2 separate regions of the Homo sapiens genome follow, and region 2 is linked to region 1. A link means that fine-mapping ties the variant in region 1 to the expression of a gene that starts in the linked region. Tissue or cell type: coronary artery. Region 1 holds a variant in brackets; the other region holds the start of a gene. All regions are shown on one strand. Distances are between the middles of the regions.

What was found. PIP is the estimated chance that this variant, and not a neighbour inherited with it, causes the effect.
Region 2: it holds the start of ZNF232-AS1, and the variant in region 1 is fine-mapped to the expression of ZNF232-AS1 in coronary artery (GTEx, PIP above 0.99). The same link has a PIP of 0.9 or more in left ventricle and thyroid.

Annotation. Positions count from the first base shown.
Region 1 is chr17:5,653,260-5,661,361 of GRCh38, forward strand. No RefSeq gene overlaps it. Among named protein-coding and RNA genes, the nearest start is that of NLRP1, 73 kb to the left of the region's middle. The variant C/T (reference allele first, on the strand shown) is at 4,093.
Region 2 is chr17:5,107,249-5,115,350 of GRCh38, forward strand. ZNF232-AS1 (ZNF232 antisense RNA 1) reads left to right here and starts at 4,687. Exons shown (of 3, transcript NR_135658.1): 1 at 4,687-4,853; 2 at 6,138-6,204; 3 at 6,910-7,134. It overlaps ZNF232 (zinc finger protein 232), which reads right to left and starts at 4,630. Exons shown (of 4, transcript NM_014519.6): 1 at 4,552-4,630; 2 at 2,146-2,620; 3 at 1,678-1,804. The coding sequence starts at 4,574. RefSeq lists an enhancer at 4,941-4,990.

The sequences.
Region 1 (8,102 bases):
CAGCTTTCTAGGGTCACACTTGACAGTGGTTGTCTGCATTTCCTAGAGAACAGAACCTGAGACAAAAGTTTCCTTGCTGATGGTTTATTTAGGGGAAGATGGTGCAAGTCCCAGGAATCATGTCTGAGAAAAAGGGAAAGTGAAGCAGAAAAGGAGTCAAAGCAAATACAAGGATGTGTGCTACTGGGCTGACCACAGCATTGCAGTAAACACAGGGGGTTGCTCAGGACCCTGGGAGGTTTCTAGAAAAGCACAGGGAGCCACCCAGGCAGCTTCCAAGAAAGCCAGGGCTCTAGTCAGGCCAGTGAGTAGGGAAACGGCCTCTCCATCATGTTAGCACAGTACACAGGAGCCCATTGGGTTTTAGAGACAGTGGTGGCCATCAAAATTTTTGACTATGGCAGGGAGAATAATGTCCCTCCCAAGATGTCCACAACCTAATCCCCAGAACCTCTGAATCTGTTAGCTTACACAGCAAAGGGGAATTAAGGTTGCAAGTGGAATTAAGGTTGCTAATCAGATGACTTAAGAAGAAGAAATTATTCTGGATTGTTCTTGGTGAAACCAATGCAATCCCAAGGGCCCTTAAAAACAGAAAGGGGAGGTAGAAGAGAAGGTTGGAGCGATGGGTTGTGAGAAAGACTCTACCAGCCTCTGCTGGCTTTGTAGGTAGTGGAAGGGGCCGTGAGCCAGGGAATGCAGGTACCCTTTAGAAGCTAGAAGAGGCAAAGACATGGATTCTCCCCTGCAGCCTCCAGGAGGAACATAGTCCTGTCCATAGTCCTGTCCTTGATTTTAGCCCAGTGAGACTTATGTCAAATTTCTGACCTACAGAACCATAAGCTAATAAGTTTGTGTAGTTTTAAGCCACTTAATCTGTGATAACTTGTTGCAGCAGCTATGGAAAATGAACAGAGTGACCCCAGGAGCAGATGATTGTCCCTGGAGTCTGCAAGGTTACTGGAAGGGGTGGCGTGTGGTCAGAATCTGATTGGAGGCCTCTAAAGGACTTATCAGATTTGGCATCCTGGAGGGTGAGTTCCCCCCGAGGTGAAGGTCCTCGTCACCGTGACAGCTCCCCTCCACGTCAGTGTCCAGAGCACTGCAGGGTAGCTTCCACCTCACTGGGCAGCAGTGTTCCATTCTCTGTCCTTTGTCCATCTCCAGACTCTCTCATGCTCAAGTACGTTGCTCTTCCATTGTGTTAAAAGCATTAGGAACACCCTCTGTGTGTTAGAAAGGCAGCTTTCTAAACTGCCTTTCTTGAAATATTTATTGAGCGCTTACTTTGGGAAAGAAGGATGCCTGCGAATACAGGGATGAACAAGACAGGTTCTGAGTCCATTTTCCTAATGGGGGGACAGGACATTAAATCTTATGAGCATATGGCTGGGCATGGTAGCTCATGCCTGTAATCCCAGCACTTTGGGAGGCTGAGGTGGGTGGATCACCTGAGGTCAGGAGTTCGAGATTAGACTGGCCAACATGGTGAAACCTCCTCTCTACTAAAAATACAAAAATTAGCCAGGTGTGGTGGTGCATGCCTGTAATCCCAGCTTCTCGGGAGGCTGAGGGAGGAGAATCGCTTGAACTCGGGAGGCAGAGGTTGCAGTGAGCCGAGACCAGGCCATTGCACTCCAGCCTGGGCGACAGAGTGAGACTCCATCTCAAAAGAAAAAAAAATCTTATGAGCTCACCAATAAGTATAAATTCACAAATGATGGTAGCTGTTATTATGAAAAAGCTCTAGAAGCTATTCAGATTCACAGGAGGACATGCATGAGATCAGGGACTCAGGGCAGGCCTCTCTGAGAGGTGACATTTAAGCTCATGCTTAAATGATGAGAAGCTTGGGCCACACAGAACTTGGTGGTCAGAACAGGCAGGTGCATTTCCTTGAACCCGGATGTGTTTCCTACCAACCAGGCAAGGCTTTTGGTTACATTACTTCAGGTAGGAGCTTTCTCCTGCCCAATTCAGCAATATCTACAAGATGCCCCCGCTGTCTTGTGTTAGAATATCAGGTGAAATGTATCTGAGCACATGGGATTCCTTCTAACAGTTGTTCAATGAAGAGCGTTGGCTCTGGGATGATGGACACAGGGAATCTCCCCCATCCTCAGCACGTCTCAGGAGTCTCTGCTGAAATTTGGGTCTTGTTTGGTCGAAAGAGAAAACCGTGCCTGGAGTAGCTGTGGAATAAGGGAGAACCGTCTTGGCCCTGGAGGCAGAGAGGCCTGGGGCTGGATCTCAGCTCCACCATGGACTAACCTCACAGCTTGGGCAAACGGCCTTCCTCTTTGAATGAGCTTCCCAAGCTGTGAAATGGAGGTCACAATGCCTGCCTCAGGGAGAGGTTGTGCAGGTTCAGCGAGGTGATAGGTCCTCCACTTCTGTTATATCCAAGACATTCAAACAATTATAATAACACACTATGATGTAACACTATTCAAATAATTATTAACCCCATGCAAGTTCAATTTTTATGATGTGGCAAGATGCATTGCCCCCTCCATTATAATGAGTAGGGGTGTGTGTTTGTGTGTGTGTGAGAGAGAGAGAGAGAGAGAGAGAGAGAGAGAGAAAGAGAGAGAGAGAGATTTGAAACAAACACGCCAGTCAGAGTTGGTGCCATGCCCTCAGAGAGGGTGTCATTCACAGTGGGAATGCAGAGTCAAATGTTTCTTAGCACAACAATGTGCTGGAATAGTTTCTCTTAAAGGACAAGGTCAATGTTGTCTTAACAGGAGGAATAACCTTTTCTCATGTGGGAAACATTATGACTTGCTCTGATGTGGTGTCTTTGGGCCTTACGTAAACTCTGAATGAGGATTCCAGGCCACGCTTTCTCCTCGCTCCTGGGAGCAGAGCCCGCACCCTCCTCTTTGGTTGGTTATTTTATTTTAAAATAACTGTTTCAGTTTAGAATAGTTTTAGATGTATAGGAAAGTTGCAAGAATATTACAGAGAGTTCCCGTATACCCCACACCCAGTTTCTCCCATACACACCTTCTACTTTGTGACTCAGCAAGGATGGAGTTGGGGAGAGCCTGTGCTGGCACCCAGCGGGAGCATCTTAACAAAACAGAAGGACCCAATGGGTCACCAAAGGAAGGGATAGAAGCTGGAAAGAAGCAAGGGTGGAAGAGAAGGTGTAGAGAAGACCCCAACCGCGGGTGCAGGAGGCAGCGACAGTTACTGAATTTCCCAAATTTTTAGCAAACTTCCCTCCCTCAGCCTGTACCACGAGCAATCAAAAACACACTTGGAACAGAACAGAGGGACTTTGCCACACCTGGAGTATATTTCGTATTATTTCCAGAGCAGGTGGTGTAGGAAATACCTATTGCCAAATAAGAAATGCTACAGACAGATCAAGTCAAAGTGCATAAGGAAAAGAACCGTTTTAAATGCTGAAATCTCAGAGGTAGTTAATACTTCTCAGAGGAAGAAAAGTGAGTTATTTGTAACTCACTTTTCACGGTCCTGATTTTGAGGTGTGTGTCTGCCATAAAAACATGCTAGTCTTTAGGGGGGCAAGCTCTGCTGTCTTGAGCTCTTTCTTCTTAGACTCTCAGAACAAATATGTAGATGTAATGTTTTTACTTAAGATTACACATATTGGCCAGGCGTGGTGGCTCATGCCTGTAATCCCAGCACTTTGGGAGGCCAAGGCGGACGGATCATGAGGTCAGGAGATCGAGGCCATCCTGGCTAACAAGGTGAAACCCCGTTTCTACTAAAAATACAAAAAAATTAGCCAGGCGTGGTGGCGGGCACCTGTAGTCCCAGCTACTCAGGAGGCTGAGGCAGGAGAATGGTGTGAACCCAGGAGGTGGAGCTTGCAGTGAGCCAAGATCGTGCCACTGCACTCCAGCCTGGGTGACAGAGCAACACTCCGTCTCAACAACAACAACAAAAAAAGATTGCACATATTTTCCATGTATTATTGTATGGACATGGCTTTAGGGTTCCTCTCCCAAACCATAGCAGACTCTGGAGAGAGGGTGGGGAGATCTCAAATTTTTCTGGGGCTGGATGATTGGGCACGTGGGTTGGTGGCTTTGCAGAGGGAACCTGTTGCTTCAGTGA[C/T]GTGGGGCAGATGGCTCAGCGGTGGATGGCGGAGCAAGGTGATTGCTGGCTGCCATCTCTTGAATGATCCTGGCATGAGCTCCTCCTGTTCCTCCTGGGATTGCTATGGAAACCCAGACTGAGTTGTTGTCTCTGTGTCGGGGCTTTCCTGGGTGTTTTTCCTCCTGGCCTCAACGCTTACAAATCATTCTTTCCTGTGTGCAGATCAGGTGATTCTCCCAGGCCCTGTCTGGGCAGGGTGACTGACAAGTCAATTTGGTCAGACAATTGCTTGGGCTGATTTTTCCATTGCACTGAGCTCCTTGTTTTGGCTCCTGGTAAACTGGGTTTGATCTGGGGCTGGGAGGTGGAGGTTGGGGATCAGGAAGGGAGGGAGGGGATGCCATGTGAGCCTTCTCTTTCTCAGGGGAGCCTGAGAGGGAACGGTGAGAATCCACAGTCCCCAGGTCTGAAGCAGGGAGCTGGGCTGTGTCGAGATTGGGGATGGAGGTATCATTCCCACTTTAAAGATGAAGACATTGAGTTCAGGGAGTTGAGCTGCTTTACCCAAAGCCACATGACTTACGTGGCAGAACCTGGACTCTACCTGAGGGCCTGGTGGGGAGCACGGTGTCCTTTTCGCTGCTTAAGTGGAGGGAGAACTGAAAGAAGCCTTTGCCTGATGTTCTGTGTCTCCTTTTTGTGATGGGGAAGGATTTTGGCTACTGTTTTAGGTCTGTGGTTCATGTTGCCCAAAGCACTGACGACAAATCTGCACATGACCTGACCTTGGGCTTTGGGCAACCCTCTAGATGCCAGTTCCCGAGAAAGACCCTCCACACTTTCAGCTTGCCCATCTGACTGATGGGAAGCTTACCCCTAGAAAGGCATGGCTGAAGCAGAGAACAGAAAGTGTGATCCTTGAGGCCAGAGACTTGGATGTTTATTTCGCTTCTGGTACTTACTAGCTTTGTGACCTTGTGCAAGTCACCTGCCCTCTCTGAGCTTTAGCTCCCTGGCTGAGCAATGCACAAGCCACCTGCCCTCTCTGAGCTTTAGCTTCCTGGCTGAGCAATGCAGTGGTTAATTATTGCTTGGCCTACCTATCAGGGTTGCTGTGAGGATTTAATAAGATTGGAAACATGGAAGCTTTTTGTAAGCCCATAAGGTCAAGCCAAGCCTCCATGCAAGAGCTATGTGGCTTTGATATTCTTGAGGCCCAGAAGGCAAGGCTGACTTCTGAAGCCATGGGTTTGGGGCTGGGGAGGGTGGAGCTGGCTCAGAGTTTGCAGCCATTCAGGGGCCATGTTGGTGATTTTTCCCTTAAGGAGGCCTCTGGTCTAGGGGGCCAGCCAGGGATTAGGGAAGAGGATACACGCTGGCCCATGCTTGTGCTTGGCAATGCCTTGCCACACCTGCCCTCTTTTGCCCCTCACATCTGCTGAATGGCAGGAAGATGGGCCATTGGGTGCAAAGAGGACACACTACAGTATGGCTATGAAGAGAGGGAGTGGCAGTGCATGCGAAGGCTGGAACTAAAAGGCAACTTGACTTCTTCCACTGGCGTGGCCAAGGTTGTCCATTTGCAGAGTCACGTCGTGCTTTACGTAAAAGCTGCTCAGGGAGCAGGGCTCAGAGATAATAAATGTAGCTGAGTTTGGAAACAGCCACATCCCCATTCACCACGGACAGAAGTGGGAGTCAGGGATGTAGCCCAGGGAGGCTTCACCCCTCACCCCTAGGCAGCCCTTTCTTCCTCGGCAGCAACACTGTGAGACCCTCCTCTTTTCACAGCAGGGGCCATCAGGCCCGGAAGTAGGCTTGGCCAGAGCCCAGGTGCAGGATCAAGCCTCACTTGAGGTTGGAGATGTGGAAGAGTTCTAGCCTCCCCTTCTGGGCTCAGCATCAAGTCCTACTGTCAGCCCGTCAGCCGCTGATGCTAGGGTTGAGTTATGCTAACCAGGCCTCGGCCTCCATCTAGAGCCCCAGCCTCTCCTCTCCTTCCCCCAACTGCTGGGATTCCCTTTTCTTTTCTTTTCTTTTCTTTTCGTTTCGTTTCTTTTCTCTTCTCTTCTCTTCTCTTCTCTTCTCTTCTCTTCTCTTCTCTTCTCTTCTCTTCTCTTCTCTTCTCTTCTTTTCTTTTTTGAGACAGTGTTTCGCTCTTGTCGCCCAGGCTGGAGTGCAGTGGCATGATCTCGGCTCACTGCAACCTCCACCTCCTGGGTTCAAGCGATTCTGCTGCCTCAGCCTCCGGAGCAGCTGGGATTACAGGTGGCTGTCAGCACATCCAGCTAATTTTTGTATTTTTAGTAGAGACAGGGTTTCACCATGTTGGCCAGGCTGGTCTTGAACTCCTGACCTCAGGTGATCCACCCGCCTCGGCCTCCCAAAGTGCTGGGATCACAGGCGTGAGCCACCGCGCCTGGCCAGGGTTCCCACTTCTAACAGCTGGGTCCATTCCCAGCTCTACTTCTTTCAGTCGCTATGAGGCCCTGTTTCCCTCCTCATCCTTTCTAACTGCCCCTTCTTAGGGGTAGTGGCCCATCCCTGGACCCCAGCCCAACATTGGTTCCTCTAAGCTCAGGATAGGAAGCAAAGTTCTGTGTGTTGAGGGCCTTTTTTTGCTTCTGGCCCTTTAAACCTAAGTAGATCAAAGAAGTGGATTCTAATTATTCCCATTGTACAGAGGAGGAAACTGAGGCTCAGAAAGGCTAAGAGACTTACCTAAGGTAACATGAATGGTAGAGACAAGATTCCAATCCACATCCACAGGGATTCAAAGGCTGTGCTGGGTCTTGGTGCAGTCACCCACCTGCCTGACGCCTGCAGGGGTCTGATTTCCAGGGGGATGTATTCCCCGTCCTGGGAACCTCCTGTTTGTGCTGTTTTGCTGAGAGCCAGACATTCAGTGCACGCCAGGGCCAGCCACATGACTCCACTTCAGACTGGTTCTTTGACAAAGTTTTAGATGTTCCTTATGGAAACTTAACCTTGAATCTGTTTCTCTGTCCTGCTCAATAGTTCTGTGTATTACTTAATGTGAAAGTAAGGCTCAGAGACAATAGCATTTAGAAAAAAAGAAAGAGCTTACTTGTAAAGAAGCTCAAGAGAGTCAGAATTCATAAAGACTCTGGTTTATCAAATAAAACACAACAGGAATTTAAGGAAAAAAGCACGACAAACCTTCCAAGGTCACTGAGTTTGTTTTGAGTCCATTCATGGCGGAAAATAGCAATTTTCTCACATATTATCACACCCATAAAAGTCGTGACAAATTTTTAGATATCAGCATTGCCCAAGTCAGAGATAAAAATTGTTTTGTTATGAAGTTAGCCAACTAAGGGAAAGGCTCAAGATTTCATTTGTTTTGGGGGGCCAGAACTAGATAGGATGATCTTCTTATTTTTGGTTTCTTTTTTCCTGGTTGGGAGACATGGTGTGTTCACTTATTCTTTATTTTTTAAATTGTTTTGAGATGGGGTCTTGCTATGTTGCCCAAGCTGGTCTCAAATTCCTGGGCTCAGTGATCCTCTTGCCTTGGCCTCCTAAAGTGTTGGGATTACAGGTATGAGATGCCATGCCTGATCCCAGGCTTTTTTTTTTTTTTTGAGACAGAGTCTTGCTCTGTTGCCCAGGCTTGAGTGTAGTGGTACCATCTTGGCTCACTGCAACTTCTGCCTCCCAGGTTCAAGTCATTCTCCTGCCTCATCCTCCTGAGTAGCTGGGATTACAAGCATGCGCCACCACACCCGGCTAATTTTTGCATTTTTAGTAGCGGTGGGGTTTTGCCATGTTGGGCAGGCTGGTTTCGAACTCCTGACCTCAAGGTTATCTGTCTGCCTCAGCCTTCCAAAGTGCTGGGATTATAGGCATAAGCCACTGTGCCTGGCCCCCACTTATTTTTTAATTTTTTAATTTTTTTGAGACAGAGTCTCACTCTGTTGCCCAGGCTGGAGTGCAATGGGGTGGTCTTGGCTCACTGCAACCTTCGCCTCCCAGGTTCAAGCAATTCTCCTGCCTCAGCCTCCCAA
Region 2 (8,102 bases), 550 kb before region 1:
ATGATGGCGGGCGCCTGTAGTCCCAGCTACTCAGGAGGCTGAGGCAGGAGAATGGCGTGAACCCGGGAAGTGGAGCTTGCAGTGAGCCGAGATCACGCCACTGCACTCCAGCCTGGGCGACAGAGCGAGACTCCATCTCAAAAAGGAAAAAAAAAAAAAAAAAAAAAAAAAGAGTGTGTTGCCTTTTTGTTTTTAAATGTCCATAGCACATTTTATGTTTTATCTGTTGTAATGCTCCCTATAGCCTAAGGAGAACAGAAACCAATTGCTTTAAGATAACTCAAGGTCATTTGACTTTTTTTTTTTTTTTGACAGAGTCTTGCTCTGTTGCCCAGGCTGGAGTGTAGTGGCATGATCTTGGCTCACTGCAACCTCTGCTTCCCTGGTTCAAGTGATTCTCGTGCCTCAGCCTCCCCAGTAGCTGGGATTACAGGCGCGTATCACACCTGGCTAATTTTTGAATTTTTAGTAGAGACAGGGTTTCACCATGTTGGCCAGGCTGGTCTTGAACTCCTGACCCAAGTGATCCACCTGCCTTAGCCTCCCAAAGTGCTGGGATTATAGGCGTGAGCCACCGTGCCCAGCCAAGATCATTTGATTTTTTAAAAATTCATTTTTTCAGGTTAAATGCTGTGGTTAAAAAAATCTGAAATATGCTTGCTATATATAAAAAAAAAATCACACAATAGCTAGCTTCTTTTTGAGAGTAAAGTAATAAAATTGATAAATGAATAGAGGCTTACTAAACAGAAGTAAAGGAGACAAGAAAAAGTCTGGAAAAAAGTCAAGGAAGAAAGAAGAGCTAAGAAGTAGAAACATACTTTTGGGACAGAGTCTAATTAATCTCCATTTCTATTTTTTCCCATTTTGTAACTAAGAAGAATTTGATTTTTCAAATGCCTTGGTTTGGTGATAGTGATGGGGGGGCAGTTATGGTGTAAAAGCAAATATCAAGTAGACTCTTCTTGGTTAGCCGCATATTCACAATACGGTCACAAGGCTACAGAGGTCAACAAGGAGAGTTCACGCCCCTGAGGCTCTAAGTCTAGTGTTCGCCGCTGGGAGAGAGGAGAGGTTGTTTGCAGGTATGTATGCAGGCCAAGAAGGAAGTTTCTGTAGTGAATCTGAAGGGTAGAAGGTGAGGGCACACATAAGAGAGTTTCAGATAGGGCTGTTTACATGAGGAAGAGGTGGTAAAGGTGATGACAGGCTGTATCTCACATAGGAGTGCTTTATGGCTTAAAAAGTGTTTTGCGAGGCCTCAGCGAGTTTAAAAAAAAAAAAAGGATCTCAAGGCTGGCCTCTAGCTCAGGGCAGAGTTATTATAGACTAGGAGTTAAGTGCAGTGGAGATGATAAGGCATAAATGAATGAGCTATTTCCTGGTCCTGATTTAGGGCTCTCTAAAGTTAAGAGATGCTGGCCAGGCTTTATATCCAGATAAGACCCAAGTTGAGCTTAATCCTCAGAGCTATCTTATGAGGTAGTTTATTCTTACTCCTAATTTTATGAGTGATGAAACAGGCAAAGTCTCTCACCTAAGAGATAAGAATAGTAAGGCTGTGATGATACCAAACATTTAAGCACCTACTACTATTTACCCTTTACAGGTACTAGGTACTGTGCCCTTTATAGTCCCTCTTTCTCCTCTCCCTCCCCACAGAATCCTGCTCCTCACCACTCTTTGGGAAAGGCTGGGTCTCCTTAGGCTGGAGCTGGATGCTCAGTGCTTCCTGGGCTGCTCCCAGAGATTCCTTCTTCTCCCATGGCTCTTCCTGTGCAGGTCCATGTGCAGGGCCTGGGACCTGGAGGTGATCAGGCACCACTCAGTTTAAATTTTCTTCAAATTACTAGTGTGGTTTCTGTCCCCTGCCTGGACACTTGCAGATGTGACCCTCCTTGGACCAAAGCTTCCAAGGAGACTTTAGAGAGCCTCCTCAGAGTCAGCACAAGGGAAGAAGAGGAGCTAGAGTCTCTTTCTCATTCAGGGCTCGAGGGCAGAAAAGACAGACACAGAAACACATACTAACTGCTCTACCTGGCCCAAGAGAGGTTTGAACTTGGCACCTCCCCCTACAGCTGCCCCTCGGTCCAGCCTGAAGGTCATCAATCTGGCTCCCATAACAGACCAAATCCCCCTTCCCACCTGCGGCTCTGGTTCAAGTCCTTTCTCTAAATCCTCCAGCACAGTCACAGCCTCCTCTCCACTCTTAGGGTGATGTCCCCGCACCCAGGATTGGAGCTCCTCAGGCAGGATGGTCAAGAATTGTTCCAGCACCAGGAACTCCAGGATCTGCTCCTTCGTGTGTTTCTCTGGCCTCAGCCACTCACAGCAGAGTACTCGTAGTTGGCTCAAGGCCTCCCGGGGACCAGGAGTCTCCTGGTAGCGGAGATGCCTGAAGCGTTGGCGGAAGATCTCTTGACTGGTAGAGTGGTTCCCAGGTAGCCTGGTCTCATACTCACAAGACTGTTCCTCTTCCTTTGGTCCCATCATCATCATCTTCTCTTGTCCCTGTGTACCCTGAAGGGCCAGAGTTTCAGCTGCTGTTAGTGATACAGCCATCCTAGTCTGCACTAGCTCTGCAGAAGGCTCATACCAGCTGGAATCTTGCAAGGGCCCCCTGTAACATAAGAAGAAATCATTCCTCTTTTTTTTTTTTAAGACAGAGTCTTTCTCTGTTACCCAGGCTGGAGTGCAGTGACATGATCTCAGCTCACTGCAACCTCCACCCCCGGGGTTCTAGCGATTCTCCTACCTCAGCCTCCCAAGTAGCTGGGATTACAGGCGCCTGCCACCACATCCAGCTAATTTTTTTGTATTTTTAGTAGGGACGGGGTTTTGCCATATTGGCCAGGCTGGTCTTGAACTCCTGACCTCAGGTGACCCACCCACCTCGGCCTCCCAAAGTGGTAGGATTACAGGCATGAGCCACCGCGCCCGTCCTCCTCTTCTTTTTTCATTCATTAAACATATACATATACTCAACACTCCAAAGAGCCAAACCCTGTCCTATGCCCTGTAGTCCCGCTTTTTCTTCCACCCCTCCCCAGAATTCTGCTGCACTAAGTCAATGTTTTTGAGAAACTTGCACCGTGGTAGAAACGGGGATGTAAAGTGGTTTTCTATAATACAACTAATTAAATGCCATTGACAGGAAAAATGTATCAAGAAAAAAAAAGTTCTGGGGGCCTATGGGAAGAAATGACTATTGGAAGAAATAAGTTTGAAGCAAAACCCAAGTTTCCAGATGCAGAGCCCAGAGCCGAGCAGCTTTCAGTGCAAGGTGGAATGTGTTGGGGAGGCAGCCTCCTCTGAGATGGCTCCTCCCTGCTTTCAAAAATTTCTGAAGTAGTAGCTACAGCAAAAGAAAAATATAAGTCCCCTTTAAGGAGCTGGATCTCATTCAAATGCCAAAGCCCTATTAAGGGGCAGCTATGAACAAGTCTCGGGTACAGTGGCCTGCGTCAAGGAAATCTAACAGGTGTAAACCAAAAAAGCATCTGAGATAGGTCTCAACCAATTTAGGGGTTATTTTGCTAAGGTTGAGGATGCACCCAGGAAAAAGACACACAAGCCACAGTAGGATCCGTGGCTCGCACTTTTACCAAAGAGGGTTTTGAGGGCTTCAATTTAATGGGGAGAAAGCTGGCAGGAGGGGAAGGAGGAGAGAAGAGGGAGGGTATGTGGTGAGGTAAGTGGCCACATTCTTGTGAGGATTTGATTAGAGCTCACTGAATCCACATGTTGCACGTGAAAAGAGGAAGTCAATTATGAATTTGTCTCGTGCTCAGTAAATCTGCATTTTACACAAGATAAGGTAGACATACAGTAGAGGAAGAAGTCAAATATGCTTTGTCTCTGGGTGGGTGGAGGAACGATTTCTAGTCTTGTCCGGTGAAGCTCGGCTGTTCGTTTCCATTGCCAGGGTGAGGGAGGCCACCTGGGGGCATATGTTGCTTTCTATCTTGCAGCTATCGGTTTAGGAACAAAAGGAAAAGCAGTTTTTTTCCGTGACTCAGTTTCCAAGCTTAACTTTTCCCTTTGTCATAGTAAGTTTGGGGTCCTGAGATTTTATTTTCCTTTCACACAGGGAAGGAGGTGGAACGCATCAGAGGCCACGAAAGGAGCACAAAGGGGGACCGCTGGCCTAAGACAAAGGAGGCGCGAGGAAAAACGCGGAGCTCGCGTCTCCCAGGGTGATGCCCGGCGCCGCTGGCCCCAGCAAAACTTCTCTACCCCGGCCTCGGGCAGGTGCCCGCCCGGGGAGGGGGCTGTCGTCCAGGCCAGGTACAACTCCCCTTCCCACCCTTCACTCCCTACCCAAGGGTCTCGAGAAAAGAGAAGAGGAACATCAAGACCCCCCTCCACGGCACGTGACGCGACGCAACGCAGGTAGCGCAGCGCGGGCACCACGGGCAACCCAAACCCCTCTCCACACACAACCGCGGAGCTGCCTGCCAGGCCTGCTCACTGCAGAGCCGCCGCTGCCTGCGGGACGGGCAAAAGCCAAGCCGCCAGGTGGACCTCGGGGAAGCCGCCGCCAACACTCACCTCACAGGACCAGGAGGTTCCATCGGGGCGCTGCCGCGAATCGCGCCACTTACAGCCCTCACCCCAGGGGCAGGTTTGCGCCTGCGCAGGTCGCAGCCTCGGCCTCCAACTCCCAGAATCCTCCTCGCCGCCGGCTTCCGTTCGCGGACTTTGGCCCAGGCGCGTGGGCGCTGCCGAGAGGCTGGGAGCCCGGGAACCGGTTCCTGGACTTGAGCGGAGCGAGAAAGAGCGCGCCGCCTGCACGACTGGACTGGAGCGGCCGGGTGCCCTGGAGGCCCCTGGGAATTGCAGTCCTTGCGCAGGTGGAGAGTGAGCCCTTGTAAGCGGGTGACTTCATCAAGTTTGGGGGGTCTCTTGTGGAATTGTACCTGAAGGGCGGTGCTGGCGGACAGATGTCAGGGAAATTCTGGCCTTGTCCATGGCCTGTGGTAACACTTCTCCATGAGTTCTATTTTCCAATTACCTCTTCCCAGACCTGATGAGAGGGCCACAGCTAAGGAAGACGGTCCCTTCCACGAAAAAATATTCCCCAACCACTAGCCTGTACAATTCCTGGGGCGTAGGGGGAGGGGAGGAGAAAAAAGAATTCTAAGGTTAATTTTATTGCGATGGGGGAAATAGGGGTTGGTGTTTTTTTGTTGTTGTTATTTTTTATTTTATTTATTTATTTGAGACGGAGTCTTGCTCTGTCGCCCAGGCTGGAGTGCAGTGGCGCGATCTTGGCTCACTGCAAGCTCCGCCTCCCGGGTTCACGCCATTCTCCTGCCTCAGCCTCCTGAGTAGCTGGGACTAGAGGCGCCCGCCACCACGCCCGGCTAATTTTTTTTTTTTGGTAGGAGACACGGCGTTTCACCATATTAGCCAGGATGGTCTCGATCTCCTGACCTCGTGATCCGCCCGTCTCGGCCTCCCAAAGTGCTGGGTTTACAGGCGCCCGGCCGATTATTTTTTATTTTTTTTTTGAGACATGGTGGCCAACATGGTGAAACCCTGTCTCTATTAAAAATACAAAAAGGTTAGCTGGGCGTGGTGGCGGGCGCCTGTAGTCCCCACTACTCAGGAGGCAGGAGAATCGTTTGAACCCGGGAGGCAGAGGTTGCAATAAGCTGAGATTGTGCCACTGCACTCTAGCCTGGGCGACAGAGTGAGACTCCGTCTCAAAAAAAAAATTAATTAAAAATAAATTTATCTCACTATCAATTTTGCAGGATATTGATTGATCCAGTCTCTCAATACTTTTATAAAATAGCTTAATCCTAGTCTCTCCAAGAAAAATTGTTGTTCAACTGTGTAGTACCATAGTAACAGTTCTCAGATTCTCAGATTATTAAATTTGTTTCTCCAAGATATAGTATCCTTGAAAATGCGCATTGACACCCCCATGGCTGGGGGATATATTATCTTTTTTCCTTCAAAGTGCCATTGATAATTACTGCACGTAGGAGCTATGGATAAAAATAGTTATCATTTGTTGAATGTCTACTACGTGTCTAGAACTATGCCAGGAACTTAATGAAATTGTCTTATTTAGTCTTCACAGTTGCTCCACAAGGGATTGTATTAATGTCATTATCTTGATTTTACAGATGAGAAAACTCAAGACTCAGAAACAATAAAGGTTACAGAGATGAAATTGACAGAGCCTGAATTTCAGTATGTCAAACTTCAATGTGCCATTATACTTTTAAATCCTACAGAACAGATTGAATCACAACTTCTACTTTTACATGAGAGAAGACAATGGGTCCTATGACTTACTGTCAGTTTCCTTTTCCTGATTTAATTAGCTGCTTCTGTATCTAATTTTGCTAGGAATGGAGGAATAAGGCAAATTCCCTAAACTACATATTGACATTTATACTAATGTGAAAACCTCAAGTCCATTTGCAGACTTTTGGATTAGATTCTGTCCCAGAAAGACATCCACCCTAGAGTTCAGGATATCATACCCATTTTACTGTTCCCCTGGCACAATTCATAGTAAGGAAAAACAGACAAGGGGAAAGCTATTAGATTCTCGGTGCTGCTAAACAGGACACACAAGGACACCATTTTGTGATGATGATGGTGCTTTATGCAGCTTCCACCATTTACAAGATTTTCCTGTGGTGTGGAACCTCTCATGATAAAGCAAAGGAACTAGAAGCTTATTCCAGTCAAGATTTCTGATTTATCTTGTGGTAAGCATTTGGGAAGGACATATCTGCACATGACCTGAGACTAAGTACTATACACTGAATCAGATGAAAATTGCTCTTAGGAAGCTTACAATTTTCCAAATAGTTAGGACAAAAACAAACTCTCCTTCTCTCTTCCTATATGTACATACTGACATCTTTATCATTACTGTCTTCCTAGGGTTATGATTCTGTATGGTTTCTTTGGTGCTGCATTAGACCTGAGCTCTGATTGAAAATTCTTCCACGCTCGCTACATTCCAAAACTTTATCTCCAATATGAATTTCCAGATGCCTCACAAGGTCTGAGCTCCATCTGAAGGCTTTCCCATGCTTGTCACATTCATAGGGCTTTTCTCCACTATGAATTCTATGATGTCGAATAAAGTGTGAGCTCTGATTACAAGTCTTTGAACATTCATTGCATTCACAAAGTTTCTTTCCACTGTGAATTCTTTGATGCTGAATAAGTTGTGAGCTCCCCTTCAAATCTTTCCCACACCCAATGCATTTATAAGGCCTCTCTCTCACCTTGTATGGATTCTCTGATGTTCTGTAAGGACTGAGTTCTGGCCAGGCGCAGTGGCTCACGCCTGTAATCCCAGCACTTTGGGAAACCGAGGCGGGTGGATCAGCTGGGCTCAGGAGTTCGAGACCAGCCTGGCCAGCATGGTGAAAGCCCCTCTCTACTAAAAATACAAAAATTAGCCGGGTGTGGTGGTGGGTGCCTGTAATCCCAGCTAATTGGGAGGCTGGGGCTGGAGAATTACTTGAACCTGGGAGGTGGAGGTTGCAGTGAGCCGAGATCGGGCCACTGCACTCCAGCCTGGCAGCAGTGTGAGACTCCGTCCCAAAAAATAACAAACAAACAAAAAAGACACCAGAGGGCTTTGGGTCCCTCTCTCTCTGCCATGTGAGGACCCTGTGAGAAGGCAGCCAGGGAGCTCTCACCAGAACCTGACCATGTTGGGCCCTGGTCACAGCCTTGCAGCCTCCAAAACTGAGAAAATAAATTTCTGTTGTCTGGCATCCAGTCTATGGTATTTTGTTACGGCAGCCCGAGCTAAGACAGAGGAAAACTGGGGGCTGATGTGACGGCGGGGACTTTAGGTAGAAGGACCCCACGTCAAAAGTCAAAGCTAAAAATTCTGGAACGAGCCAGGAAGGCATCAGGACGTCTCATTTTATTTGCTAGAGGCATCTTTTGGGGGGTGGGGCGGTGGGTGGGTGGAAGGAGATGTGGCCAGTGAGCCTCTGACTTTTAATTGAGTTATTTCGAAACAAGGAACAGAGGGCCGGATGTGGTGGGTCGTGCCTGTAATTCCAGCACTTTGCGAGGCCGAGGCCAGTGGATCACCTGAGGTCAGGAGTTCA